Linked DNA regions of Homo sapiens: all the other regions are linked to region 3. The links come from fine-mapping of genetic effects on plasma protein levels. A gene starts in region 3. Each other region holds a variant in brackets. All regions are shown on one strand. Distances are between the middles of the regions.

Region 1 (10,843 bases), 16 kb after region 3:
GACCCAAGGAGGAGCAGGAAGCCTCCCAAAGCCAAAGGGAAAGGTCAGCTCAGCAGAGGCTCCGAGGTTGGGGACCTGCTTCAGAGTTGAATTTGCAGGACGAATGACAGCTGGATTTTACTTAGAGTGTGTGTTTTGTCTAGGGTGGCTGTGCTTGGGCAGGGGCTGAGGTGGGGCCAAGACCCTCGAGCTATGGAGGGCAACACTTGATGTTTGTCTTACTCCGTTTCTGCTGCTATAACAAAATACCTGTGACCGAGTAATTTATGAAGAACAGAAATGTATTTCTCATAATTCTGGAGGCTGAGAAGTCCAAGATCAAGGCACCAGCAGATTCAGTGTCTGCTCAAGGCTTTCTTTTTATCCTCATATGGCAGAAGGTAGAAGGGCAAAAGGGGCTGGCTAGTTCCCTGGAGCCCTTTTATTAGGGCACTAATCCCATTCACAAGGGCAGATCCTATTCTGACCTAATCACCCGCAAGGCTCCACCTCTTAATATTATTGCATGGGTGGTTAAATTTCAACACATAAATTCAGGGGGACATTCAGACCACAGCAGCATTCCTACTTCTTCATACCCTTGACAGTGACAATCACTGAGTTCCAGAAATTGCTACTTGAAAATGTGACCCATATACTGCCCAGGCTGGTCTCAAACTCCAGGTCTCAAGCATTCCTCCTGCCTTGGCCTCCCAAAGCACTGGGATTACAGGTGTGAGCCACTGCGCCTGGCCCAGTAGTCGGCCTTGACCTGTGAGTCTAGCCCAAGAGTCAACCTTGAGGATTCGCCTGGGTTGTCAAAAAATCAGATTCTACCAGTGGGGGAAGGAAGCACAAGGTGGCCTGGGGGCACATTCTCTGTCTGGGTATCTTTGGGGACACCTGTTCTGATTGGGAGCTGGAAAGGAAAACAATAAGAGCCATTGTTAAACAAACAGGTTTTCTCCATCGAATGACAAGTGAATGAATAAAACACACTATATCCACACAATGGAGTATTATGCAGCCATGAAAAAGAATGAAGTATTGATATACACCATAACATGGAGGAACCTTGAAAACATCATGCTGGGTGAAAGAGCCAGTCACAGAAGGCCACATCTTGTATAATTCTATTTATGGGAAATGTCCTGAATAGGTAACTCTGTAGAGACAGAAAGTAGATTAGCTGTTGCCCAGGGCTGGGGTGGGCTGCAGGTAGGAAAATAGGCGGTGACTGTTAATGTTCTTTTTGGAGCCATAAGAATGTTCAAAATTAGTTAGTAGGCATGGTGGCACAACTCTGTGAGTATCCTAAAAATTATTTGAAATGTATATTTTAAATGGGTGAATGGTCTGGTATGTAAATTATATCACCATAAAGCTGTTTTAAAAATACTAAAATCCAAAAAGTAAAAAAGAAAAAAAAATAGCTCTACAACTTCGGTTTGTAGAATCGAAAAGATGAGGTCAGGAAGGGGCCGGGGCTCACAGTTTCTGAGTTTTGGTGCTTCCAGGGACCCAGGAGATCCTCAAGCCCTGGGGCACATCAGGAGTGAGGAGGGTGGGTGTTCTGGGCTGGACTGTGACTTGATATTCCTTCAAATGGATATTTTAAAAAATGTTCATTTAATATTTGTTTTGTAGGCTGAAGAGAACGATTTGACATTAACCCAAACTGTGTATTTCTTTGCTAATGTACCAAATAAGGCATTTGTTATATGTGGTTTTCTACCCCAAACATCTTTTACACCAATGGCATACTAAACTGTTTTCAATTTAGATGATTAAAGAAACTGCCTATGAGCAGAACAAAAGCACTATACTGTGCACTCTGCAGTCTGGGGTTTCAGTTTCCTGGGACTGCATCTTAAGATGAGTGCAAGGAATTTTTGTTTTCCACTGGAGGGCACTGCCCACCCTGGTGGGAACAGAGAGATCCCTATGTAGTGGCTGAGTTATCTGGCACAGGCCTTAACTGGCTCTGAGTCTTCTATTGACTGCAGGGATGTTTTGTGCCCCCTTTAGAACTACACCCTGGACAGCTGACCCTGACAAGGAATAAGGTTGAAAGATGGGTTGCCACCTCTTGCTCCAACCCTGGTTGGGGCCATGGCTAGACTCAGAAGCCCAAAGCCACAGAATCACTGAGGTGAACAACTTTAGGTGAACGAAAGAGTCAGCTTCCCTGCTGAGGTTTTCCATCCCATATTTATGACAAAGGGCTCTGCTGGGGCCTGCACACAGCCATGGTCTGCAGCCACACCCTAGGTCCCTGCCACTCTGCTGTGTCCTGTCCCAGTTCTCTGCTCACCTGAGGGGCAGTGCTTGGGTCTTGGGAAGACCACTTGGTCCAGGTCACAGGAAGGATATGATTTATGGTCCTTTTGTCCAAAAGATCCTTTCCTGTCTCAGCCCCCTGCCTACTCGATAGACTCTGCTGCGCGTCAGTCACAGACATATTTGTTTCTGTGTACCTTGGGAGAAAAACACGAGTGTGGTTCTCAAAAGGATTCGGAGCTCCTGCGGGGGCTGGCCTGGTACAGGGCAGGAAAATATTCTGGGTCTAGTGAGGACAGAGGGGCCTTTATTTGGGAGCTGAAGATTAATGAGGAGGATTAACTGGATCTAAACAGAGAGAAACACTGGTGTGAGTAAGAAGACGTGGGCACATTTCTGACGGAGACGAGTCATGGAGGAGCCTGTGAAATTCTGTCTCAAAGCTAAACCCCAAAGATTAAGTAAACAAATATGTCAAATGGCAGCTTGACATGTTCTTGTTATTTTACATTTTGCTCGATTGGCATTTCTCATCAAATTAGCGGCAAAGCTCCCTTATGTTTCCTGACGGGGGGTTAGCACAGTGGTTCACTGCACAGACTGCCTGAGTTCGAACCCTAGTTTGGATGCTTACTAGAGACTTTGGACCCAAAGTTACTAAACCTCTCAGTACCTCAGTTTCCCCATCTGTACAATGGCAATAATAAAAATAGCACCTACGTGTTGTAACCAGCACACCACACTAGCATTACCTGGAGGGATCTCTTCAGTGAGGTAAACCAATAAGATGTCCAGGAAGGAACGAACAATCTTTTCTCGGATGTGCTTCAATTCCCCAGAAGCTGAACATGGTAGGAAGAAATCAGTTTGTTCAGATCATGTTCTGTTATTATCTTGAAGTTTAGAAGCACAGGTTTATGTAGGCAGAGCTCAATAACAGCTCCATTTGGGAACACAGATACACAAATCTTATCTAAGTACTTCTTAATACCTTGCTTAAACATATGAGTCACTGTTTCACAGTAAAATGGAATGTTTGCTCAATATGGGCTATGATCTTAATACTGTGCTATTCTTTTTTTTTTTTTGGTAGAAAAAGCATAAGGAGAGTGGGCTTTGAAGTCTGTCCTGGCTCCTCTCAGATTGTGTCCAAATCAAACCTCCCAAACCATGTGTGTTCCCTGAGACAGGCCTCACTGTTGCTGCGACTCCCTTCTAGAAGGAGGCAGTGCTAGGGAATGTTGCTCACCCCCTAGACCACCAGTTCCCAAGCACCAAAGGAAGACGTTACTGCCAAGCACCAAAGGAAGACTCTGCTTCTGTGGGGCCTTCAACAAGCCCCTCTACAGCTTGGACTCTGATGCAGGTGCTCCTTGTACCTCCCACTCCCAGAGAAACACTACCCTAACCCATCACCCCAACCTTTGAAGGAAATCAGTTAAACAAATAATGAAAATTCTACTTTTCTTTCCAAGTGGCAGAGAGGCTAGTTTCCATTAGGAGAAGTTCCAGCTAAGATAGAGGGTAGTCTTCATGCTAAAGCAAGGACTAGCAAGCCCGGGAGAGGGAGGAAGAAGGGTGTGTGTGCGCACCTGGGTCTGTGCCCATCCAGAATTAGGTTTCAAAGGGGGAACTATTGTGCCTGTGAAAACCTGAGTCATCAAAGTGCAAAGGGGGAAAAAGAATACAGAGAGGAGCAGTTGCGCAGGAGAGAGAGGAGGTCCCTTGAAAGGCAGTCATTTCCGTGCACTTTAAGGCAAACAGCTGGGCCCCCACCTGGACTCTGGAAAGCCTTGCAGGTGAGGAGGCTGAGCTGGCTGCTCTGAGGCCCAGACCAGGAGGCAACATGTGTTCTACATACACACTCCCTGGACCCATCTGGGGCTCAGCTGGGAAGGGATGAGACAAGGACCTGGGCTGCCAGATGCAATGCTCAGGGTCTCCAGGGGGTGTCAGAGAGTCAGGGCAACAGAAGGCGGGGCCCAGGACCCTCTCCTGGGAGCTGCCCCACTGCAGGAGCTGCTGGGGGTGGTATCTTAGTAGCAGTAGCCCCATGGGCAGAGGCAGCCTGCAGCTTACTGTCAGCGTGAGGGGAGGACAATGAGACATTTGAGAGCCTGCAGTGTCAGGCTGGCCATGCCTGGTCTCATTAGCCTTCAAGAAGGGGCCTGAGAAGAGGCTCTGGTGCAGGCCCAGGGAGGTAGGGTCAGAGGAAAGAGCCTGTGAGGGGTCTCAGGGGAGCTAAGCACCCACGGGAATTTGGCCCCAGCCAGGGAAAGATGAGAGAGAGGGTTCTTGCCTTATCTCCCTGTTGCAGTCTTAGTTGGACAAGTTGGGGCCCCAGTGTCCCCTGGAGGTGGCCTAACTGCAAAGCATGTAGGCCACAAGGGGCTTTTCTGGGTTGCCCCAGAGGTCCCCTGAGCCCTTGAGGAGCTGGATGCAATCAGAAGTGGGACCATATACTGCCCCCAACGTCTCCCACCCTATTTCTCAGACTCTGTCCCCACTATTTCCCACTCTACAAGGCGCCCTGTCTTCCTGCTCTGTCCTCTCTCTGACCTTCAGGCTGGTGGTCAGAGGTCCTCTTGGCGGTCCTGGGACCAAAAGTCTCATCTCAGCACCCTGAGGAGTCAGGGTCTGTTTCCACGTCTGGTAAACAGGAACAGTAACCCCTGGCTGCCCACAGGCTGTCACGAGGGCACCCTCGGCAGTGCTCCCCCAAACTCCCCTAGGGTTAAACTCACCTGGGGTGCTTGTGAAGTACCCAGGGTCCTGTGCCGCATCCCAGAGCCACTGGATCTGGATTTCTGGAGAGGAAGTCTGGCAAGCTAGAGTTTTAGCAGCTTGAGAAATGTTGGAAAGGAGTGAAGCAAAAAGGCCCC[A/G]TTCACTCACTCTTCTTGGTTTGAATCCTGCTCCACCCGCCAACTGCCTAGCTACAGGACCTGGGGGAATTTGCTCCTCTAACTCAATTTCCTCATTGGTAAAATAGGTTCCCATTAGAGCTTATCTTGTGATGTTGTTGTGAGGACTAAATACGAGGAGCAAGCCCCAGGCTGGCACAGAGAGGAGCCACAGTAACTGTGAATATCACTACTAGATAGGCTTATGGAGTGAACGTGCTTTGTAGGCTGATAGATGAATTTTTTCTTCTCTTTATATAAAGTGGGCTCTGCCCTCTCTTCAATAAAAGACAGTGTCTGCACCAACCAATCCTCAAAACTCAAGTATAGAAACTGGATTGTGCACTTAATCAGGGTGGAATAGAACAGCCTGTGCCCACCCCCTCCGCTGATGGCTCATGAAATGGGCCAAGTGGGAGTGAGGCTGGCCTCCTGCAGCCCTGCACCTGGGCACCCTGCCCCATGAGGAGGAAGCAGGGCAGGGCCCTCTGTGCTCATACCCCTCTCCCTGACCCTTCCCTGCTTCAGGATTGCTGCCTTAAAAAAATTCTTTGACTGTTACCCCAAGTAGACCCACCCCGGATTTTACTGCATGCTGCAGCCCTCTTCATTCGTAAACCACCCCGTGGAGTCAGTCTGTTCAGTTCAAGGTGAAGATTTTAACTCAGGCTATTTATAATTCCTGCAATGGAGCGGGTGTTAGTTTCAAAGCAGTCATGCCAGATGTCAACTTAGAAGCTGAGAGGGAGACAAGCGTTATTATAAATTAATGTTGCCAGTGATTAATATTTGATATTTTTAACACACGTTCGTCTCAGAGGAAAAAAATCCTCTTTAATTAATGTGGCTAGATGTTGTGCAGTCCTTCCACTGACGTGGGATTACTGAAAATCTTTGGGTATAGCTTTGGGCAAAAATCTGACAGAAGAAAATAATTGAACCCTGAAGTCAGAGTCAGAGTTTGATGCCCCAGTGTCTGTACACCTGTCTCCTTCAGCTGGGACTGTCGGGGTTGGGCATCCGCCAGTCTCCTTCCCCCTTCCATCCTTTCCCCTCGGGACCTCCTGCTCCCATTCTGGACTGGTCCAGGCTGGAGAAGACACTGGTTGGTTCCATCACGGCCTGGGAGTCTGGAGATTTTTCTTTAGTCTGGGCTTTGCCAATATGTGAAGTGGCTCATCCTGTAGACTGTCACTGGGTGGGAGGAGAGGCTTGCCCTATAGACCTCTGCTATTTTGTCTGCACAGTGCAAAAACAAATGGTTGCTCTTATTTCAAAGCTGGTATATTTCTCCCCACATCCACATTTCCTGTATCTCTTGGAAAATGGCAAATCCTGGCATCCCTAGTGTGGGTTCCCACAGTGGCACTAACTTGTGATATTATCTTTCTTTTCAAATGTTCCTGAACCCGCCATTGATCTTGGCCTCCACTATACCTTCCTCAGGGTGGCCATCTGGTGGCTGGGGTTAGCATCTGACCTGCAGACAATTTGGTCTGCAGGTGTTGGCCTGCATTATGCTTAAAAAATAAATTGGGGCCAGGTGCGTTGGCTCGCACCTGCAATCCCAGCAGTTTGGGAGGCCGAGGCAGGCGGATCACGAGGTCAGGAGATCGAGACCATCCTGGCCAACATGGTGAAACCCCGTCTCTATTAAAAATACAAAAATTAGCCAGGCCTGATGGTGTGCGCCGTAATCCCAGCTACTCAGGAGGCTGAGGCAGGAGAATCGCTTGAACCTGGCAGGCCGAGGTTGCAGTGAGCCGAGATTGCGCCGCTGCACTCCAGCCTGGTGACAGAGTGAGACTCTGTCTCAAAAAAAAAAAAAAAAAAAAAATTGGAAGGACACTGGGCCTGGTGGCTCATGCTTGTTATCCCAGAACTTTGGGAGGCTGAGGTGGGAGGATTGCTTGAGGCCAGGAGTTCGAGACCAGCCTGGGCAACATAGTGAGACATCTGAAATGAAGCAATTTGGAAGATAATTAAATTAATTGCATTTTTTTCTTTTTTGATCTGGTTTCTCCTAAAATTATTTTTCAACATTTATTTTTAAATTTAGAATTTGAAGCACAATCTCTAGTATTTTGTAGGCCCATAAAATGTTACATGCCTACTCCTTAGTTTAGTAAAAATAGATATAATTTGGTAGAATCTCTGGTAGGCGATTTTTTTTTTTTTTTTACATCAGCTAACATATTCTTCTCCATTACCTGCCTGGCCCCTGTGGTCATCTGGGCTTTCACCCTTGCCAATGTCACTGAGCCTCATGTTTCTTATCTGTTAAATGAGGCCTGAGAGGCTGGGGTAGAAAGATCATGGATTCTGGAGTTGAACTGGTCCTGGATTGAAATCCTGGCAACACTGTCTTCTCATCTTGGAGCTGAGTAACGACTTAAGTTCTTTAAGCTTCATTTTTCTCATTTGTAAAATATAGATAATAGCAACCACCCTGCATGCTCTTGGTGATGACTAGATGAGAGGAGAATAATAAGAGCTTGCATTCATCGAGTGCCTGCTGTTGCCAGGCACCTTGCATGGCCTCACTGATCATCACAAAAAACCTACAAGGTAGAAGATGTTTCCAGATGAGGACGCCGAGGCTGGGAGGGATGACTGTCACAAGGGCAGAGCAGGGGCGCTGAGCACACAGTGGGCACTCAGGGACCCAGGGCTGTGTAAGAGACATTGCCAAGGTCGCCTCTACTCCTGAAAACCCCATGATTGAGACCCTGTCCCTCTACTTTTCACAGTGACCAGGCCAGGGAGGAGTGAGTTTTGCAGATGTTCAAAGACAGAACATAAAACCTGAAGGTGTCCCTCTTTATATTCTGAGTTTTCAAAAGGTGCATATTCCATTCATTAGATTATAGTTTATGATATTTGGTTCATAAGAGTATACTGATTTTTATTTACAAGTAAACCTATTTTTTTACTGTGTTGTATATGTGACATAGAAGTTACCATTTTAATCATTTTTAAGGGTATGGTTCAGCAGCATTGAGTAAATTCATGTTCTTGGGCAAACATCACCACCATCCATTTCCAGAAATTTTTCATCTTCCCAAACTGAAACTCTGTACCCATTAAACAATAAATCCCCATTCTCTCCCTGGTCCCAGCTCCTGGAAACCACCATTCTACTTTCTGTCTCTGAATTTGACTCCTCTGTGTGCTTCACATAAGCGGAATCATACAGTATTTGTCTTTTTGTGACTGGCTTATCTCACTTAACATAGCATCTTCAAGATTCATCAATTTTGTAGCACGTGTTAGAATGTCCTTTCTTTTTAAGACTGAATAATATTCATATATATATATACACACACACACACACACACACACACAGACATACACACATATGCCACATTTTGTTTATCCATTCCTCTGTGGATGGACACTTGATCCTACCTTTTGGCTATTGTGCATAATGCTGCTACAAACATGGGTATACAAATATCTTTTTGGAACCCAGCTTTCAATTCATCTGAGTGAACTGAAGAATCCCACAAGTGGAATTATTGAATCATACAGTGTTCTACTTTTAATTTTTTGAGGAATTGCCATACTGTTTTCCATAGTGGCTGCACGATTTCACATGCATACCAGCAATATACAAGGTTTCCAGCTTCTCTAAGTATTTGCTAACACTCGTTTTCTCTCCCTTCCTTCCTTCCCTTCTTCCTTCCCTCCCTCCTTTTCCTTCCTTCCCTCCTCCCTTCCCTTCCTTCTTCCCCTATTCCCTTCTTTTGATAGCAGCCATCCTAATGTGTGTGATGTGATATCTCATTGTAGTCTTGATTTGTATTTCCCTAATAATTAGTGATGTTGAGCATATTTTAATACGTTTCTTGGCCATTTGTATCTCTTCTTTGAAGAAATCACTTCTATTCAAGTCATTGGCCCATTTAAAAATCAAGTTATGGCTGGGCGTGGTGGCTCATGCCTGTAATCCCAGCACTTTGGGAGGCCGAGGTGGGTGGATCATGAGGTCATGAGTTCAAGACCAGCCTGGCCAAGATGGTGAAACCCCGTCTACTAAAAATACAAAAATGAGCCGAGTGTGGTGGCGGGTGCCTGTAATCCCAGCTACTCGGGAAGCTGAGGCAGGAGAATCACTTGAACCTGGGAGGTGGAGGTTGCAGTGAGTTGAGATCACGTCATTGCACTCCAGCCTGGGCGATAGAGCAAGACTCTGTCTCAAAAAAAAAAAAAAAAAAAGGGAAAAAGAATAAATCAAGTTATTTGTTTTTTGTAGAAGTTCTTTACATATTCTGGATATTAGCCCCTATCAGATATATGATTTGCAAACATTTTCCCCCATTCCATGGGTTGCCTTTTCACTTCGTTGATGTGTGTCATTTCATGCACAAAGGTTTTAAGTTTTGATGTAGTCCCATTTATCTATTTTTCCCTTTGTTTCTTGTGCTTTTGGTGTCATATCAAGGAGACCTCACCAAATCTAATATTATGAAGATCTTAAACATTAAATTTTGAACCAGTTTTCCTTCCCAACTACTAAGCGATTCCTTACAACTTTCTTTCTTTCTTTCGAGACAGGGTCTTGCTCTGTTGCCCAGGCTGGAGCGCAGTGGTGCTATCTTGGCTCACTGCAGCCTCTACTTCCCTGGCTCAAGCAATCCTCCCTCAGCCTCAGCCTCCTGAGTAGCTGGGATTACAGGCATGCACCACCACCCCTGGCTAATTTTTGTATTTTTTTCTGGAGACAGGGTCTCACCATGTTGCCCAGGCTGGTCTTGAACTCCTGGGCTCAAGTGATCCACCTGCCTCTGCCTCTGGAAGTGGTAGGATTACAGGTATGAGCCACAGTGCCCAGCACAAACTGTATTTACAAAGCAAATCAATCACGATCTCAAGATGTGTGACCTGGTGCTAATGCCTCATTGTCCTGCAGAGGGCTCGTGTTCTGTATGTCCATCTTCGTCATCCCATTTTAGGACTGCCCTGTCCAGTCTTGGTGCCTAGGTATTGTGTGGTGGTGGGGACAGAGCTGGAAGGGACCTGTTTCCTACCAGAGAAACTTCTCACCCCATCCTCCTCTCTCCCACTCTGCTTTCCTCTTCTTTTTACCTCCCTACCTGAAAAATACTCTGAAATGGGATTTAGGACCTGTCTGCTAACCCCACTTCCCTGCAGCCCCCAGTGAATTTGGATCCATTTGCCTGTTTCCCGGGGCAGGGCCCTAGGCTGTGAGTAACCGGCTCTCTCCCTGTCTAGTTTCCACCTTCTTCCTCTGGACATGCGGGGTGGCATGTGTCAAATTTATAAATATGGTTTTGGAGAGGCCTTTGGATTATCTCAATCTTTAAAATCTTTTTATTTAGACATAATTTCAAACTTGCAGAAAGAGTTCTTACATACCTTAACCCAAATATCAGAAATGTTGACACCTCACCACATTTGCATTATTTTTCTGTCCGCTATTCCTCCCTCTCCCCTTCCCCTCTGCTTTTCTCTCTCTCACTCTCTCTAGGTATTAAAATATATATTATATTATATAATATGTAATATATTTATATATTTTATGTATAAAAATAAAACTTAAATATATATAAAATATATAATTATTGATATTTAATACATAAGTATAAAGAAAACACATAGCTATATAAATTATATAGAACATATATGTATGTTTTTCTTCCCCTGGATCTTTTAGGAAGCAA
Region 2 (10,632 bases), 18 kb before region 3:
ATTTCCTGATATCAATAAATGATCTTCAATCCCATGCTTAACTCTTCTGTCCAAGGCATGTTCTGCCCAATTTTGTTTTCTCCTGTGTCTGTTTGAATGCCTCCTTTCTGGCCTGCATCTTAGGGGGACACTGAAGTCTCCTTTCCAACAGAAGTTCTATTCAGGGGGAATCTGTTATCTTGTTTAAAGCCCATCCTGGGCTGGGGAGCAAGCAGGAGAGAGAGAGAGAGACACCACCCATACGTGACTAGAGTGCCATTTGTAGCAGGATGCCCCAGAGGCAGCGTGGCCCTTCACCACCACAGTTATCTGGAACGAGCAGGAACTGTGTAGAGGAAGAGGCACATCCCCTTTTGAATGGCTGTGCCCTTGCAGCCACCTCAGTCCCTGCTTCCTGAAGGGAATCAGTTACTGGGCTCTGGGAGACAATTTTCAAAGTGAACTTCCACGGATGTGAAGGGAACCATGACCTAGAAATCTGAAGGTGCTAGGTCTTATTTTGCTCAGAGCTGAAAAGAGCCACTTTAAGAGGGCAAACATTGAGGAAAAAATGAAGAATATTTCATTTTTTAGGGAAATCCTACGAGCCTATAGGAGTCATCTTAGCCCATGTGCATGGTCACATGGCCTCTGTCCAGGATGGCCAGGACGGGGTGACTTCCTTAGAAGGGACTGGCATCTTGGGAGGCAGGCCTTTTCAGGGCTCAGCCCCAGGACTCCTTATCAAAATGTTGAAAAAAAAAGTTTATTCCATGGACTTCTAGAAATGGGGAAAGCATTGATGGGTTATAACTCAATTCTCAACACCAACAATCCATAACTCTCAAAGAAGATCTATGACTCCAAAAGGGTGACCTGAATCAGGAGGCTTATAATTGCATTGCCAAAGTGCAATGTGATCAGAGGCAGAAACATAACTAGGACCTCCCACAAGGAGTTGAAACTCCCTTTATCCTGGGCCTGTGGTTATCTCATTGATATTTTCCACTGTAGGTGAATTATTTCATTGTAGAGTCCCCTATTTAGAAAATACATGGCATGTGTGCCAGCATTTTCCTATCCTGCACCCATGGCAGGCATCACCAATCAACATTGGCACCCTCCCCACTGAGCCTAGAAGCAGCTTCAGACTCAGTCTCAACATACTTCTCCAGGCAGCCATTACGAATCAGTCAGCACTGACCTGGAATGAAATCCTTTGACATTCCTGAATTAGTTTATAATCACAAGCAGGAATTGTATATCAAGTTCTTATTAGATAGAATACTTAGAAGGCCCTTAGGTTGGTTCATTTGCCTGTTTCCTCATAAGAATGAGGGCAGAGCTGGGCATGGTGGCTCATGCCTATAATCCCAGCACTTTGGGAGGCTGAGATGGGAGGATTGCTTGAGGCCAGGAGTTTGAGACCAGCCTGGGCAACATGGCAAGATCCCATCTCTACAAAATATATATTAAAAAAATAAAATGAAGAATGAGGGCAGGAGGTGGCGGGAGAAGTGGAAGCAGATGGAGGAAGTTAGGTTGAAGAGAGCCAAGGATTCTTATTCTGATCCTATGATTTTCTTTCTTTCTTCACTCTGTCACCCAGGCTGGAGTGCAGTGACACTATCCCAGCTCACTGCAATCTCTGCCTCCCGGGCTCAAGTGATTCTCGTGCCTCAGCCTCCCACGTAGCTGGGATTACAGGTGTGTGCCACCATGCCTGCTAAATTTTGTATTTTTAGTAGAGAAAGAGTTGCGCCATGTTAGCCAGGCTGGTTTCAAACTCCTGGCCTCAAGCATTCCATCCACCTTAGCCTCCCAAAGTGCTGGGTTTACAGGCATGAGCTACCATATCCAGCCCCATTTTCTTATTTAAGACTGAATATGTTTCTCCTGACATTGCCACAGGTAGCCTCCTTTCCTGCCTGTTCCTAGTCCAGCCCTGGGACTCTTCTCACCTCTTGTCAGGGTCCCTTGAAGCAGGGGCTGGGTTGCCCTTCTCCCTGAGGCAGGCAAGAGGCAGAGCCGGGTTCAAGCAATTCTAGTGCCTCAGCCTCCCAAGTAGCTGAGATTACAGGCATGTGCCACCATGCCCGGCTAAGTTTTGTATTTTTAGTAGAGGTGGGGTTTCACCATGTTGTCCAGGCTGGTCTCAAACTCCTTACTTCAGGTGAGCCACCCACCTTGGCCTCCCAAAGTGCTGGGATTACAGGAATGAGCCACTGCATCTGGCCTATTCTTTAATGAGAAGAATAGAGCAATGAAGTCCCTGAACTGGGCCGGGGTTCCCAGGGGCTTCCCAGAAGCATGTGGCTGACTTATTGTAGTGAAAAATTAGCCAGCACAGATTTATCACCCAATATTTAGCTTTGGCCATCAGTATTCTCATAGCAGCTTCTGCTGATTGCCTCATTCAATCAACACAGGGTGGAGGTAATATTCCATTCACGTTGCGAGATCCTGGCTTTGTGTCCTGATGGGCCATGTGGGCAGGCTGCTCTCTGCTCTAACACTCCCTCAACACTATGTTCACACCATCCTGATTTTTTCCCCCAAGTGTTTGCACGACTCAGCCTATGCAAGGGATTATGGAGCTCAGTGGCTCTGTGGCTTCAGGTTCTGGCAAATGACTATTTGCTTTTTCTTCTTCTTCTTTTTTTTTTTTCTTTTTTTTTTTTGAGATGAAGTTTTGCTCTTCTTGCCCAGGCTGGAGTGCAATGGTATGATCTCAGCTCACCGCAACCTCCGCCTCCTGGGTTCAAGTGATTCTTCTGCCTCAGCCTCCCAAGTAGCTGGGATTACAGGCATGTGCCACCATGCCCAGCTAATTTTGTATTTTTGGTAGAGACGGGGTTTTTGCATGTTGGTCAGGCTGGTCTCGAACTCCCGACCTCAGGTGATCCGCCCATCTTGGCCTCCCAAAGTGCTGGGATTACAGGTGTGAGCCACTGCGCCCAGCCGATTATTTGCTTCTTCATGGCAACTCACAGACCATGATCCCCACTCAATCTTGTGGGTTTGTAATAGCAGCACAGAAAAGCTGTGTTGAACCGTGGCACATCTGTTAGCTTTTCCAGGTGCTCAGGAGGAGAAGGTGAACTGGCTGTGTGTAGTATGGTAAATAAAGGGGCCGGGCTACCTTTCAGAGGTTTGGCACACTGAATGACTTATGCCCTGACCAGAGACCTGGGCTAGGAACTTAGCTCCATGGCCTGGATGCCTGGGACCTTGGTCCGATTTGCAAACACAACAGCTCCACAGGAAGAAGCTTTGTCACAATAGTTATTATTATAGCAACCATCCAGAGGATGCTGCATCCTAAATATCCCTCAGCAGTAGTCCAGGTAAGAAGCACACCTGACTATGTATGCTCTTCTCTGCTTCAGAACCCTTCAGGGAGCTCCACTGCCTATAAGGAAAAGTCCACATCTGGGCACTTGGGTCTCCATGAGCTTCTGCCTGCTTATGGCTCCAGTCTTACCTCTCACTGCTTCCTGCATTAAACGTTTGCCCTAAACATTGAACTGGGTTCATTGTTGCATGTTCCCCTTCACCCCCAAATCAGACTTTGCTCATCCCCAGGATACCTTTCAACTTCCCCCACCTCCCCACCTGCCTAACACCACCACTCACTAACAAGGAGCTGTGCTCCGAAGCTTGTGGACAGCTGTGTCATGGAGGAGCTGCCGTGCTCTGTCCAGAGGGCTGTCTCTTGAGCACAGAGACTGAGCCTTCCCCACCTCTCTAGCCTCTAGTCCCAAGCACAGCCTGCCCCCTGGTAGCCCCTAGGAAATTTCCACCAAATGCATGCAAGGTCTTGCAGCTGCCCCACAGCTTGACATCCCACTTCCTCCTGAGCCTCCTCCTCCACTGTCTTCTATCCTCTGCTCAAAGCCCTTAACCGATGCCCCGGTTTTTCAAGGGCAGCTTCTTCAGTGTTGTTTGTTCATTCACTCAACTAACAAGGGCTGACCATGCATCGGCCTTGAGGGACTGAGGAACAAAGGTGCTCACACTCTGATGGGAGGCACACGGAAGCAGTGGCAATAAAATCTGTAAAGTCTTCTGTGAGAAGTTAAAGAGAAAATGCTAGAGGATCCCAGAGGAGGAAGCTACTGCTGACTGTGTGGTGGCTCCTCCCCAGCCTCGTACCCTGACTCTCACTCTTCAGCCTGCCCCAGTTCCCCTCTAAGCTACACCTTCTCCAGGAAATCGCAGCACACCCATGGCATCCACCTTTCCACTGAAGACTCCTGAGTATTCAGCCCCAACCTCTCTCTGAGGATTAGAGAAGTTAGGTAACCTGGCCAAGGCCACACAGCTAGGGGCAGCAGGGATGGCGCTCTCCTAGGACCATGCTGCACTCCTCCAAATCTGCTCCTTGCTCCCCTCCCATCCATCTCCACCTTCTTTGCCCTGCTGTGTGTCCTGGGAGGCTGATCTGTGAGGATGTCTTGGTGGCTGCCTTCGGTGGATTTGGCTAGTAACCCTCAGAGGAGTGGAGGAAAGGAGGAACATGAAACCGGGGAATTAACTCCTCTGTCATGCTCCCAGCAAGACCACCTAGGTTGGCTGTCCCTTGGCAGAAGGGGATCCTCTCAAGGGAGCTTCTCTACAAGACCCTCTCCTTCTGGTCCAGGTAGCTGTTCTCCTCCTGGTCTTCTGGCTGGGTGATGGGAGAAGCTCCTTCACTCCACTGCTACTGGCTCTAGGTTACTGCATTAGTCCTGCCTTTATCCGACACCACGCTCACACCTTTGTGAAAACACCCTCTGTGCATTATCCTAGTTTGAGTGGCTCCCTCTTTCCTGCGGGCCCGGGGCTGATGCATGCTCCTTCTGCATGTCCTGGATTGGCGAATAGCATCAATATCTGTACAGCTCTCCAGGCCCCAACCTTAACCGTCTCCTATTCTTCTTTCTCTCTCATCCTACTCTAGGACCTGAAAGCCTCTGAAGTTCACTCCTTCGGCCCCACTCCCTTCCTGCTGCCTTTGGGCTCTCCTCATGTGACTCTGCCTGTTGAAACTGTCTGCTAGCTGGCCCAGCATCTCCAGGCATGGCCTCACTCATCCACCTCTCCCTTGCTGAAGGTCTCCTCATGTAACACACGATTCCTTTAGATGGTCCTTCATCACCAGCAAGATGAAACCTAAATTCATTGGCATGGTAGACAAAACTCTAGCCTTGCCTCCCAGAGGCCAGTCTCTGTCTCCGCCACTCCCCAGGTGGACTGCATTGTGTTTCTGCTGCCATAAACATAATTTATTCTGACTGGAACATCTTCTGTGCATGTCTGCAGAGTGCACTTCACTCCCCCTGCAGTTCAAGCATCCTTCCTCCACAAAGCCTTTTCTTTTGATCACTGCAGGACCTGTAAAAGCTATCCTGGGATAGCCTGTATTTACTGGACTGAAATGATCTGTTTGCCTATCAATTTCCCCAAATGATATATGGCAAGGAGTAGTTGAATCTAAGAGCAGATCTCAAAGCCTATGTCCTTTCCATTGCCTTGTACCCTGCTCCCCTCAAGAATACCTATTTTTTGGGGTTGGTGGGAGGATCATGTGAGATAATGCATGGGCAGTGCCTGGCACACAGTAAGTGCTCAATAAATACTGTTATAAATGGGCGACCAGGCTGGGAGCTCCTCGCCTTATCTCTTTCCTGTGTATCTCTCAGTCCTTCGAATCTCCTGCCTCCTCTACCCAGAGTATGTTTCTGGGGGTTACAAATTTTTGAGGCTCCCGGTTAGAGATGAAGATCCCATTAGCGAAGATTGAATATCGGACTAGCTGTCAGGAAGCTCAGCTTGTTAGGTCAGGAAGGGAAGGGAAGGGAAGGGGAAAGGGAGAAAGAAAGAAAGAAAGAAAGAGAGAAAGAAAGAAAGAAAGAGAAAGAAGGGAAGGAAGGAAGGGGAAAGGAAGGAAGGAAATATATATATATATATATATATATATATATTTTTTTTTTTTTTCCCTGAGATAGAGTCTTGCTCTGTCACCCAGGCTGGAGTGCAGTGGCATGATCTCGGCTCACTGCAACCTCAGACTCCCGGGTTCAAGTGATTCTTGTGCCTCAGTCTCCCCCTGAGTAGCTGGGATTACAGGCGTGCACCAACACACCCGGCTAATTTTTATATTTTTAGTAGAGACAGGGTTTCATCATGTTGGTCAGGCTGGTCTCGAATTCCTAACCTCAAGTGATTCACCCGCTTCAGCCTCCCCAAGTGCTGGGATTACAGGCGTGAGCCACCGCGCCTGGCCCGGAGAGAAAAATGTTATAGGCAGGTGTGTGTGTGC[G/A]TGATTGTGTCCAAGTGCTAAGGACGTGCTATTCATGGGGTGCAGGAAGATGGATCTTGCTTCTCCAGTAGTCTTGTCTACCTGCAGGTCTCATCAGGCCATATCTCCAAACTTCTACTTGCTTTGGAAATCTCACATGGAACCTTCCCAGGATCAGGAAAAAAAAAAAATTAAGTAGAGTACCTTAATTCTATGACTCTACTTGACTAGCACTGAGAGATCTTGACCACTTAAAACATTCATTTATTTCCCACATACCTGGCAAAATTCTGTTTTGCCACAGGCCCTGCTGCCGTGCAAGGTTTTGTTACATGGCGGTGGAATTTCACTATTAGGGGAATCCCCTACAGTTCAACCTGTAGAAGCAGAAGGAAGGAGCAGATATCCAGTCATGTGGGGGTACATGGGATTATAGGGCTTCTCCTCCTAGCCTAGTGGGATAGAGTTGATAAAAAGGACAACTGTTATCTACCCCATCTCCTCCCTCTCCACCCTAATGGAGGAAGAAGCTTCCTGAGAGAAGCTACTTCCTGAGCTCAGCCTTGCTTCTCTCTTCTGGAGAGTCACCCCCTCAGAGGGCCATGTTGCCCTCTCTGAGCATTTGCCAGGCTGAGCTGGGCTGGGTGGAAGGAGTGGATATAATGCCTGCCTGCCTGCCTTCTTACTATCTGCACAAGCATTGGCCTCTGAGTGAAACCCAGAGTCTCTGCTTTGGATGCTGGGGACCTGGGCATCTTTGTCCCCTTGTGTCTCCTCCTGGCGCTGGCCAGGGGCCTACAAAGTGCACTTGGCACCAACTAGTCCAAGTCCTTGGTGAACTTGTCATTTTCCTTAGTTCTCTCCATCCTCCTGGCCCTTTTAGGGACCTGTCACAGTGCCTGCTGAGAGTGATTGCCCAACAGAAGCTCCTCCTGCACTCTCAGCCCACAGTGGGGGCAGGGGCAGGCCGAAAGGCTGGAGAGTGAGAGAAAGCCACCTGCTGGGAGGTTCTGGCTTTGTTGCTGCCACTGACTCAGCCCCAGGCCTTTCCCCGTGTGACCAGCCCATCAGACTCACACCCCTGAGCTAACCTGCACCCAGGCCTTCCTGGCAGTACAGACTCACGCTCAGGACAGTGTTTCATGCCTGTCTTTCTAAGGAGTTTCTGTAGGATTTCAACATGTGATCTCCCTGCCCTGCTGCCCTCAGAGCTACTCATGTGACTCTGTTTCCTTCTTTTCAGTCTTTTAAAATTGTGGTGAAATGCGAATAACTTAGAATTTACTATTTTAACCATTTTTGAGTGTACGATTCAGTGGCATTAAGTATTTTCCTTTCTTTTCGCTCCTGGCAGCCTTATCAATAAAGCGGTGGTCCTGTCTGTTTCCCCCCAGGCCACAGGGTGGGTGTCGGGGGTCAACTTGGATGCCCAATATCTCCCATTTGGATGAAAAGTTTCTATTCTGACAACCACCCATCTGAAAAATGTAAACTTCCATGGAATCTGCCTTCCTTCAGCAGGCAGCTAATGGGAGGCTTTTTAAATTAAGAAATTAGAGTGAGTTGGCTGGTCACAGTGGCTCACAATTGTAATTCCAGCACTTCGGGAGGTCGAGGCAGGCAGATCACTTGAGGTCAGGAGTTCGAGACGAGCCTGGCCAACGTGGTGAAAACCCGTCTTTCCTAAAAATACAAAAATTAGCTGGGTGTGGGGGCATGCACCTGTAATCCCAGCTACTCAGGAGGCTGAGGTTTGAGAATCGCTTGAACCCGAGAGGTGGAGGTGCCACTGCACTCCAGCCTGGGCAACAGAGCAAGACTCCATCTAAAAAAAAGAAAGAAAAAAAAATAGAGTGAGTTGGTCCTGATTTCACTTACTCCTACTTTTACCAGCCTATGTGAGGAAGGAAAGAGCACTGGATCCAGAGCTTAGAACACCTTAAAGGCTGCTGGCTTCTGTGGGGCTGGCACCACTGGGGAGAGGGACTCCAGTCAGCTGGTGAAGGGCTTGGGTCCCTGGCTGCTTGGAATGGGAACTTGTCTGATCTTTCCCCAGAAGCTTGCATTTGTTTGGGATAGAGCCAATGTGCTGTCTTCGGGCAGGAGCCTGCCTCTTGATGTACTGTGTTTGTATCAGAATGCTTCTGGGTACAAGAGATAGAGAGCCTGGCTTAAATTCAATTAACATGTGGTCAAATCAAGGATCCAGGTTCTTTCATCTTTCTGCTCTGTCATCCTCAGCATTGGCTTTTTTCCTAAGACTGGTTACTCTGATGGTCCCGACTCTCCAACTACCGATGGTGGAAGGAGAAGGGCTCCATGATTGCTTGATTCACCCAGCTGTAGAAAGAAAGAAACCACTCTCCCAAGCATAGACTTTATGGCCTTCCCTTCTGACTAATCAGGCCAGCGTAGTTCACCTGTACACCCCTGGATCATCCGCAGTTACAGGTGAACAATGTGGTGGGTTGACTGTTCAAGATGCAGTGCTAGTGCTGGGAATATGGTCAGCTTCCCCTGAAGCACAGCTTCTAAGTACCCTGGGGAATTGCATTACCTGTAGGAGAGGTACACACTGAGCAAAACTTGGTTTCTGTTAGAGGAAAAGACTTGGGGAGTGGTCCCCTACAGCAATGTTTTTCAAACTGTGGATTGAGATCCATTAGTGGGTCATGAAATCAGTTTAGATCACAGCTTATGGGGCAAATTCAGCCTTTATTTATTTGTATGAATAAAGTTTCATTGGAACACCGCTACCCCCACTCGTTTCCTATTGTCAATGGCAGCTTTCCCACTACAATGGCAGAGTTAATTTAATTACTTGGGACAGAGATCATATAGTCATCAAAGCCTAAAATATTTACTCTCAGGCCTTTTGCAGAAAATATTTGCTGATCCCTGGTTTAGCGAGTTGCAACCAGTACTAAAAGATGAAACAGATTAGACTAGAATAGAAAATATATCAGAGTGCATTGCCTGTGATAGGGATAAGTATTATTTCATAAACCCTTGATTTTAGTTTTATATAAACATAAATTCGTGCTTGTGGGTGCTGGGCTCTAGTTTATTTCTTATGGTGGGTCATAGTCAAATAGTTAGAAAAATTGCACTAGAGCACCACTCATTTTTTGCCGTGGAAATAGCTACTTAAGAAGGCCTATTTGTAATAGTGCTGCCCTTTGGGTTACATGTGATCTCTGTACCTAAAAGGTCAGGTGCTGGGGAAGATGCCTTGAATTAACAAAGGGCCATGAAACAATTTTGGGGGGTGACCTGGGAGCACTGAGTGAGCAACAGTATAGGATGAGCAGGGATCTGGCCAGGAGGAAGCTGGACCAGCCGCGCTCAGACTTGAAGAGACTGTGCTGGAAGATCTAAGCCTTTGTTGCTTCTAACATTCTGTGATTTTCAGAGGGGCGTTCACCCCATTCTGTGGGTGGAAAATCAAGGCCAGAGGAGACCACACACAGAAAACTCAGGGGCAGGACTAGTGGCTTTGGCCCTTTGGTGGCTTTCTGCCTGCCGTCCCCTGACTGAGTTTTCTTTGGCCCACGCTCCAACTATGCCTGGAGAGAAGCTAGACCAGATGGAGACTAGCTGGGAGCATTGACTCCTGGGTTCTCCTCTCCTGAGAACTCTGATCTTGCCAGCACAAAGGGGAAGACATCTTCTCTGACTCCTTCAGGGAAGGGAGTCCCGCCGACCACAGCTTTCCACGTTTCTGGGCCTCTGGCTTTTAGCAATTGCCCTCCTTTCCCGCCAACTCTGGCATCTTCCTGCCTGTGTGGGAGTCACTAGCGTGCAAGGAGGCTGAAGGGCCTTGATTGTCTGTGAGAGCCTCTGCCATTAGTAAGGCAGTCGTGGAATGTTTATGGCCTCTGCCACTTCAAAGACATTGCTGGGCTCCCATCTAGGGGATGGCTTTGACATTTATAGGAGGGTCAGCGAGCTAATAAACCAGAGAGGTTTCTAGTGCCTGAGGGATCCTCTTACAAGAAGAAATTTATTTCACATAGGAATGTCCAGAAATTTATTGGAAATATCCAGCCAAGTGCGCATACTAACTAACCCCATGCTTCATTTTGATGAGACCTTATGTCCTTGGACAGGAGGCCCTGTAAGGCAGCTTCAGACAACGGGCTCCACCTCAGCAGGAGCAGCTGGGAGCCTGGGCTCTTCTTTCTGAAACTGCCTTCAGAGTTGGATGGAAGAAGGGCAATTGCCAAAAACCTGGCTGAATCTGTGCTCAGGTGGAATTTTCTATCTCAGCTGCTGCTGAAATCAAAGATGAGCTCAGGCACTGGTCTTCCAAGATGTCAAAGCACAAGTCCTTTCAGAAAGTGAACTCACGTGGACCCCAACTATGTGAA
Region 3 (9,217 bases):
AGCCTCCCGAGTAGCTGGAACTACAGGTGCCCGCCACCACGCCCGGCTAATTTTTTTGTATTTTTAGTAGAGACGGGGTTTCACCATGTTAGCCAGGATGGTACTCTTCTCTTTCTATTTTGTTTTCTTCTTCTTTTTTCTCCTTGTTCTTCTCTTCCTCCTCCTCTTCCAATTCTTCTTAGATTTGTCCAGTTTAAATTCAGGCTTTCAGCTGGCCTGAATTTATGACCCTGCACTGTACTAAGCTGCATCTTTCCTTTGCTCCGAGTCTCCAGAGTTTACCCCCGGAGTTCTTGGCTATTGTGCTGTAGGCCCCTTTGAAGCCTATGGCTCAGAATAATGACTTCAAATGTATAAAATACAATATGTAAGATTATAAAAAATATCAAGTTTATTAAAATAAAGTTATCAAGATATTTATTAAAAACAAATTTGTGACATGGTAATACATGCACTTCTTTATTAATGGATCAAGTAACAATCTAGCAAGGAGCCTAGTAACTACAGTGATTTCAAGGTAGTGATGAGCAGGAATGATATTTGGAGCTATTTGAAGCAATAGTAATATGACATAAAAACATCTGTAATTTCTCCTGGCAACAAAATCACGGTACTGTTAAAACTTTTGTAGTTTGTGGCCTATGGTTCAAAGAAAATGTTAAAAATTCAGTTAGAAGTTAGTGAACATTAAGATGCAATTTTTCTCTCTACCAAGTTTATGGATTCTCTGAATTCTGCTCATGAGCTCCTCAGGGCTGTGACTCCAAGTTAACAACCCCCAGCCTGGATGCTTGGGTTTCCTTTATTCTATTATTCCTTTCTTCATCTCTTTTTGAAACGGATCAGAGTTAATTCTTGTTTAATCATTAGCAACAAACCAGTAATAAAGGGAGCATTTTTTTTTTCTTTGAGACAGAGTCTCACTCTGTCACCCAGGTAGAGATGTGATCTGGGCTCACTGCAACCTCCGCCTTCCAGGTTCAAGTGATTCTCCTGCCTCAGCCTCCCGAGTAGCTGGGATTACAGGCACATGCTATCAGGCCTGGCTAATTTTTGTATTCTTAGTACAGATAGGGTTTCACCATGTTGGCCAGGCTGGTCTCGAACTCCTGACCTCAGGTGATCCACTTGCCTCTGCCTCCCAAAGTGCTGAGATTACAGGCGTGAGCCACTGCACCCAGCCAAAGGGAGCATATTTGAACACATGTGCTCAAACATTAACACAAGATCCGCCCACTCAGGCAGGAGCAAGGAGACCCCTGGACATGGGCTCCCTTTCTAGCTTGCAGAACAATAACCATGATCTTAAGGTAGAGTGGAAAGGGGCTTCTCAACCTCTCCCCCATGCTTAGGTGAGACTTACTCCATGCCTGAAGGTAAACAGTCTCAGAGGACTATGCCAGGTCAGGGAATATTCCACTCCATAGTCTCACTCCATGAGAAGGTCGCCCTACATCTTGAGGGGCCCCTCAAGGTAGGCCTTGAGATTGGCTGTTGCTACACGCGCACACACACACATCTGTATAAATGGTCCATGGTGACACTGACATCAGCTAAAGCAGAGAAATAAGGGCCAGGCTGACGTTATGAGATGTGAACTGCACGTAGCCCTTCTACACAGACACTCAATGGCATGCTGCCCACCTGCCCTCATTCTCTCCGCAGGTGTGTAGGATTCTGGGAAAGGCTTGCCCGGCACATCTTCTCCACTAGCTCTCTCCTCCCTCAGCGGAACCAAGTCCACTTTTAGCACTTTCACCGTTTCCCCTCCATTTTTTACCACTTGCTTCTTGTCTCACCTCCCCTCCGGCTTCCCTCCTTTGTCTCCTCCAGTTCATGCTTGCTTAGTTCAGGGTTTTCCTCTCCTTTCCACTGTCCTTTTCCACACTGCACCTGGCAGCCAAAAAGTAACCCTAACCATGGCAAAAAAGAATCAAGTACTGTTGAAATCCACCTAGACAAGGGAACAGGAGAGCTCTAAGGTCTAGAGGGAAATTAGACCCTAGAAGTGCGAGTTCCTGGTCCTGACACATGGAAGGAACTGAATGAATGTGTAATTGAGTTATTGAATAAAGAATCAGTACTGCTTATCCCCGGAGCTCCTCAGAGTCTCTTCTGGGATTTCCACCAAGTTGCCCTCTGTCCCTTGTCCTCCTCTAATTAAAATGGCTTTTCCTCAAGCACTAGCATTCAAGAGAAATAAAATGCTTTTAATCAATGCTATTGGTTTTGTTTTGCAACAGCATTTCTTGCTACCATTCTTCACTGCAATTGTGAGATGATTAGTTTTGTGTGTTTGTGGCAGTGGGGAGGGAGGGAGTGAGAATAGGGGAGCGAATGGGACGGGTGTTAGCCTGAGAATCACCTGATCTGACATTGTCTCTTGGAAGGCAAACTTGTGAGGTGGGGTAGTGTGTGCAGGGCAAGCAGAGCCCACAGGACCACTTCTGTAAGGTGTTCCAAGCCCCCAGCAAAGTGCTGCCTCCTCCCTAGGTAGCTTTTCTCCCAGAGCAGAAGGTCCTCCAAGGCTCGGATGGTCTCTTGATTCTTCTGTCACCAGCCCGGCCCAGTGTCACAGTGTACAGGTGGGCCTTACAGACTCATTATTTTGATTCTCACCTCCCAGGAGAATTTTATATTAAGGCATACAAGTTCATATGTTTATAGAAAAAACTGGCCATTGGTAGCAAATGCTGCTGTGTGCCAGGCATTGTGGTAAGCACTTCATATGCATCACCTCACTTAACTCTCCATCTGCAGTCAGAGGGATCCTTTCAAGGTGTGAATCAGGCCAGGTGCGGTGGTGTGTGTCTACAGTCCTAGCTACTCTGGAGGCTGAGGCAGGAGCATCGCTTGAGCCCAGGAGTTCCAGGCTGCAGTGAGCTATAATCACACTTCAACCTGGCTAACAGAGCAAGACCTTGTCTCTAAAAAAAATCCAAGTGTATACCAGATCCTGCCTCTCCCCTGCTCCAAACTCTCCAAGGGTTCCCATCACACTTGGAGTCAGGTTCCTGCCATGTCCCACAAGGCAGGCTGGATTTGGTCTTTGGCTCCTGCTCCAACTGCATCCCCTCCCATCCCGTCCCCTGGCTCACCTCACTCTTTGCTTCTCCTGGAACTGGCCAAAAAGCCCTGCCACAGGGTTGTTGCACTGACTTTTCATCCAGGCTCTGTCCAGCTCACTCCTTCACTTTATCAGTCATCTGCACAAGTGCCTTCTCAGACAGACCCTTACCACATCTAAAATATCACCACTTGTCAAGGTCTGTTGCTTTCCCTGCCTTTCTCCCCACCACCTTTTTTTTATTTTTTGAGATGGAGTCTCGTTTTGTTGCCCAGGCTGGAGTGCAGTGGCGCGATCTCGGCTCACTGCAACCTCTGCCTCCCAGGTTCAAGTGATTCTCTTGCCTCAGCCTCCCGAGTAGCTGGGATTACAGGCGTGAGCCACCACAGCTGGCTAATTTTTATATTTTTACTAGAGATGGGGTTTCACCATGTTGACCAGGCTGGTCTCGAACTCCTGACCTCAAGTGATCCGCCTGCCTCTACCTTCTAAGTGCTGGGATTACAAGCATGAGCCACTGCGCCTGGCCTTCCTTTTTAACAGTGCTCAACACAACTGGCCATTTTATTACAAATCTGTTTATTTGTCTATTACCCGTCTCCTTGACTATAGTCAAAATTACATGAGGACAGGGTTTTGTTTTGTTCACTGCTATATTCCCAGTGCCAAGAACAGTGTCTTCTATACAGTAGGCTCTCAATAAATATAGTCAATGAATAAATAAATAGATGAATACTCGCAAAATCGTATGATGTAAATGCTATTCTTATCCCATGTTATAGATAGGAAAACTGAGGCTTGGAGAGATTAGCAATATTTTCAAGGTCATGAAGCCATCGATCTGAATCAAAGCATCTGCCTCTGGGGGCTTAGCTCCCAGCTCCCGTGCTAGTTAACCTTCCTCTCTGCACTCATAAATGCCTATCAGCGTTTCAATGTGGAAACCCTAGACCCCTGTGACATTTGATAAGAAAGGTTTTGTGGATGAATCTGCTTGTGAAATACTACAAACTGCATTTCCCACTTGGTGTTTCAAACACTTATTAGCATATGAAAGGCCCTGAAAAGTTCTGCAAAAAACAAGCCGGTTTGTGTTTCCCAAATTTTTGACTGTAGAAGTCTTTTATTTGTTTATTTGTGTATTAACATATTGCAACACATACCTTGGGAAATGTTGGCTTTTATTACTGTGGAGAGAAGGCAGATCATCTGACAAAGCACTGGGAGCTCTCTCTGGGTCGTATGACACAGAGAGGGCTGGGGTCAGGGGCTTCCCTCACAGGCGGAGGGGCCATCCCGAAAGTCAACTTCCCACCAGACTGGCATCTGAGACCACCGTGTTTATACACTCACGGATAAGGCCACTCTCATGCTCACCCCTAAAACTGGAAGGCCAGTGGTGTGGCTCTGGTACCTTTCAGCCACAGCCCATACCAGCTCGGCTCTGCAGGGTACTGAGAGAGTGTGTGCCCTGTATGTTTGCTGGCTTTCTGCCCTTGGGTCATTGTACCAAGGGACACTTGCTGGTGTTCATCCTGAGCCCATGAGAGAGCAAATCCTTATGTGTGTGTCACTTAGGAACATCAGCCCCACAAGTCTGGTCTTTTTTTCCTCACTGTCTTATGGCTCCTCACTATAATTTTAACCTTTTAGAGAAATAAGGATACCACCTCACCCTCTTCTGTCTTCTCAGCTACCTCTGTGTTGAGCCCATGGTAAATGCCTAGATAAGTCTTGGTGTGAGTGAGAGGGAACCAATAATCTTGTATGTTGCATAGTTTGGTGCAGGGAAGCATAAATGGTGATGTTGCAAATCCCTTAATTCATTACCAGAGGCTTTCCTCTGCCCCAAGTAGGATAGAAGGATACCCAGAGGCAGAAAAGAACATTGAGTGAAATATACATAACTGTCTGAATCACTGCGTTCTTGGGAGAGTTAGAGCAACCGTCAAAGCCCCCCAAGTATCCATTTTTATTGGTTTTGATGTTGATTTGATGTTGTTAGAGATTCAGGTCTCATCTTCGCTTCTGAGATCATCTGAGTAACATCGGTGTTGGAGAAGGGAAGAGCAGAGATGAGGCATCCACAGGCAGCCCTGGATCCTGAGTGTAAACATCTGGGAGGAGGCGGGGGATGCAGGAGAGCCTGGCCTCCCCAGCTTGCCAGGCACAAGGCTGAGCGGGAGGAAGCGAGAGGCATCTAAGCAGGCAGTGTTTTGCCTTCACCCCAAGTGACCATGAGAGGTGCCACGCGAGTCTCAATCATGCTCCTCCTAGTAACTGTGTCTGACTGTGCTGTGATCACAGGGGTAAGTCGCCTAACATTCTCTGTGCCTTGGGTTTTGGGAAGATGTCAGGGTCTGCACGGGTTGTGAGCCCAGGAACCATGCAGGAGGCTCTGTTGGCTCAACACAGTGTGAACCAAAGGGAATGGGGAATTATGCATTAAAGGGATTGCATGCGATTTTCAGACTAGTTAGACCTCACTCTACTAAATGGGATCTGCTTTTGAGAAGCTGTGTATGAATCAAATCCTGTTTTCAATGTGTTAGCAGAGCATTGAACATTTTGAAGTTCAGTCCTTTGGTAAAGTGAAGATTCCTATTAAGTAATAAGGAATTCCTTTATAAAGTGGATTGGCAAACCTTAACTTATCTTTTGTGTGAATTTTAATTTTTATTTATGGTCTGATTCACATATTAATATTAATATTAATTTACATAGCATGTTGACTTAATTAAAGGCAGTAAGCTTAATTAAAGGTGGTAAGCTTATAAACTTCTATTGTATAAACTTAACCTCCGCTTAGAAAGGATATCTTTGAAACTCTTTCACTCTGTGCCTGCCTAGTTAGTTCTGAGAGGAATATGGGTGCCACTAACATTCAGCTGAGTGTACCCCAAAGCAAGCATCCAGATAACAAGTAGATATCCAGTCTCGAAGCAGAGAAGCAAAGGTTCAGCATATGGGCACTGTACAATTGGTTCAAAATATTCAGATCATGGTTTTCTCTCGGAAGTTTGCTTTTACCTCAAACCACCTTCAAATAGGGGCACATGATGTGTTATGGTAGCAGGACCATTCTTACTGAAGCAGAAAGCAATGCTGTACCTGAGAGCTTTCCATATAAAATCCACTGGAAGAAAAAGGTCGGGGAAGCAGGGAAACTAACTTTTAGTTCAGCCTCCACCAGCTTTTTACATGGATAGTGGAAATGTAGAGAAATGCCAAACAATTCCTGGAATTGGGTTAATTTTACCATTCACAGAAAGGACAAATTCTTTCTTTTCTCTTTTAAAGGAAAAACACTGAGTTCAAAAGAACAAATATTAAAGGCGAGTCAAATGCTTTTGAGATCCAAAGCAAAAATAAAAATAATTGTGAAGGCAGAATTATACCTAATGAAGTGTTTACACTGTAGGCTGCCCTTCTATGGGGTAGCTTGAAAATCTGGGAGGGCAAGAACAATGGAGAGAAGCCCCGGCTGCTGCGCGGTGAGGGCAGGAGCAGCGTGGTTGGCCTGGATGCCAGGCTTGCCTCACCACCCGTGCCAGCTCCAGCACTGGCCCAGAGTGACAGCAGGGCAGGCAGATCTGAGAGCGGCAGGCAAACATTTTCACGGTGAAAAGCACAATAGAGAGCACTTTTCCCTAGGTGAGGGAAACCCAGGAAAGACAGGTGAGTGGTGAGAACAGGGCAGTAAGGGGAAGTCAGGAACCCCCAGGCTCCCCACATCCTCCATGTCCTGCTGGTGTCCCACTTCTGATTTTCAGCAGGAGCCCAGGCTCCACCACCTCTACACTCCCCTGCTCCCTGGACTGTAACTGTCCCCACATCCAAGGCTTTATGATCCTTCTTCCAAGAGTGGGACAGTGATGCCCCACCTCTATGGGAGAAGAAGAGTCGACTGGGGTTTCCTTTACCCCAACCCCAAGCTTTTGTGGCCTGGCTGGGTGTGAGACGTGCCCTTGCTGGGCTGGAGACAGGCACAGCTGGGTGCCCACCACCCGTAACTCCTCTGCATGATCTGTGGAGCTGACATCCACTCTTTCCCTCTTGGGTCTGAGCAAGTAGGAGGCTTCCAGGTCCTGCCACGTCCCACACAGCAGCCTGAAGGTGCCCATAGGCTTTTATTGGAGAAGAGTGATCCAAAACCCAGCTTTGCATTTCAGCTCAGAAAAGCCACATAGCATCTCTGAGAATGGCAAGTGTGGATGCTTCTTCAGCAGGTCCCCACCTGAGTCTGGAGCAGTTAAGAGTTCTGTCTTCCCCGGCTCTGGCTTTTATTTAACGTGGGCTCATGTTAAATGTGAGCTTATTTAATGTGGCCTTCTTTACAAATGGTACCTTCCCCAAACCAGGCAGGGCCGCTCAGCTCCTGTTCTGCGATCCTCTCTGGGAATCATGGAAGTCAGTAGAGAAACCCTGGGAGAGGCACCTGTTCACTGGGGTGCTGGCCCCTCTGCTGAGGCTGGGCCACTTGAGGGCCAGGATGGGGGTGCCTCCATGCAGAGGGGAGGGACTGACCACAGTGCAGAGTCAGGGCTGGAGACTCCTGGTCCAAGGCAGCTCAGTACTGACCACCAAGGAATTTGGGCCATCAGGGTCCCTCCCACCTCTGAGAATTCTAATTAATTCAATTCCACCAGCATCCACTGAGCATCTACTTAGCCCTAGAAAAGCTATGCCTTCTAACCTCCAGCCTTGTCAGAAAAGGAGGACTGTCTTCCTTCTGAGTGGCCTCCAGGAGCTTGGAAGTTTCCTCAGATCCAGATCCAATGCCCCCCTGAGCCCTGAGCCTCCCCACGAGGGGAGCAAGGCAATAAAGTGTGGCCCAGGGTGTTCTGTTAGGCTAAGGCCGGGGGTGATACTCTCAGCCTCTTCTTGCTCCATCCTGATAAGGGCTTTTTGGATCTACCCTTCCCTTCTGCTTTCTCTTGGGTGCACTAATGAACTGTTCCCTTCTCTCTCCCTCCTACAGGCCTGTGAGCGGGATGTCCAGTGTGGGGCAGGCACCTGCTGTGCCATCAGCCTGTGGCTTCGAGGGCTGCGGATGTGCACCCCGCTGGGGCGGGAAGGCGAGGAGTGCCACCCCGGCAGCCACAAGGTACTCTGCAGACACTGCATAGGTGCACATATGTGGGTGGGCCATGCGGGGAGCAGAGGGTGATGTCCTGGGGCCTTGCTCTAGCTAGGAAGGCTAGAGAGGCTGGCTCCAGAGAGGCAGTCTAGGGAGGCTGTGGCTCCAGAGGACTTCACCCTCCTCTGATAGCTGATCCAGCCCTGATCCAGCCCCTGAATGTCCAAGGGGAAGCAGAAGGCTATGGGGTTGCTGTGCCCCTGCCATCAACAGGCATCCACCTTACTTAGTGCCCTGCAGATGACACATTTGTACATTTATTTGTACAGGGCCTGACATAATTCATCTACAAACTTCTAGCACAGGTTGGAGAACCACTGATCTTTATTTGATCCTCACTGCAACCCTGGGCAATGCTGAGGAAACTGACATACAGCAAAGTCATGTGACTTGCTCAAGGCACACAACCAATGAGACAGAGCTGGGACTGGAACTGCAGTTTTCCGATGCCACCTCTAGTCATACCTCACTGATGTTGGGCACTGCCTCCTTGTTTTTGGGGGGCAGCCTCAGGTGGAGGGGTGCCACTGATCTTATAGGCTGTTAAACAAGCTGGGCATTCCCAGCCCCTAATTTGCTGTGTGGACTTGGGCAAACTACCTCACCTGCTCTCAGGCCACACTTATATGATGAGTGGAGCAAACTCACTACCTCTAATGTCCCTTATGGATCTGATGAATTCAGATTTGGGAAGGATCTCACATGCCCTTTGCTCTGTAAGAACTTCCCTTCAGGGACACAAAAGTAGACCCACAAAATCGCCTTCCACACCTGGTCAGGCCTACAGTGAGGCAAGTGAGGTGCCCACTTTAAGAAGTCACTCTCTCTTGTGGCCTAAGTACATAGCTCCTGCCTTGCTCCCACTCCTTGACCTCCAGCTCCCAGTCCAGAGTCCTCTGGAGCCACAGCATCCCTGCTGCTCTCCCTCTCTGGAGCCACTTTACCACACTTTACCAGTTAACCAGTGAAGCTCCCAATTCCCACAGCTTTTTCATTAAAATGCAAATGGT

Alleles and levels. Positions count from the first base shown, and alleles are read on the strand shown. Strength reflects both the effect of a copy and how common the allele is.
As copies of A replace G in region 1, the plasma level of the protein whose gene starts at base 5,237 in region 3 goes down (moderate association).
With allele G in place of A in region 2, the plasma level of the protein whose gene starts at base 5,237 in region 3 is lower (weak association).

What was found. PIP is the chance, under the fine-mapping model, that this variant and not a neighbour inherited with it causes the effect. Protein levels are from antibody-based Olink assays in UK Biobank. Linkage for the fine-mapping came from a reference panel and not from the study's own genotypes, which makes the PIPs less certain.
Region 1: its variant is fine-mapped to the plasma level of the PROK1 protein (UK Biobank, PIP above 0.99).
Region 2: its variant is fine-mapped to the plasma level of the PROK1 protein (UK Biobank, PIP above 0.99).

What each region holds. Positions count from the first base shown.
Region 1 is chr1:110,461,268-110,472,110 of GRCh38, forward strand. No RefSeq gene overlaps it. Among named protein-coding and RNA genes, the nearest start is that of PROK1, 16 kb to the left of the region's middle. The variant A/G (reference allele first, on the strand shown) is at 5,142.
Region 2 is chr1:110,426,741-110,437,372 of GRCh38, forward strand. No RefSeq gene overlaps it. Among named protein-coding and RNA genes, the nearest start is that of PROK1, 19 kb to the right of the region's middle. RefSeq lists a silencer at 7,164-7,353. The variant G/A (reference allele first, on the strand shown) is at 6,284.
Region 3 is chr1:110,445,913-110,455,129 of GRCh38, forward strand. PROK1 (prokineticin 1) reads left to right here and starts at 5,237. Exons shown (of 3, transcript NM_032414.3): 1 at 5,237-5,376; 2 at 8,049-8,174. The coding sequence starts at 5,305.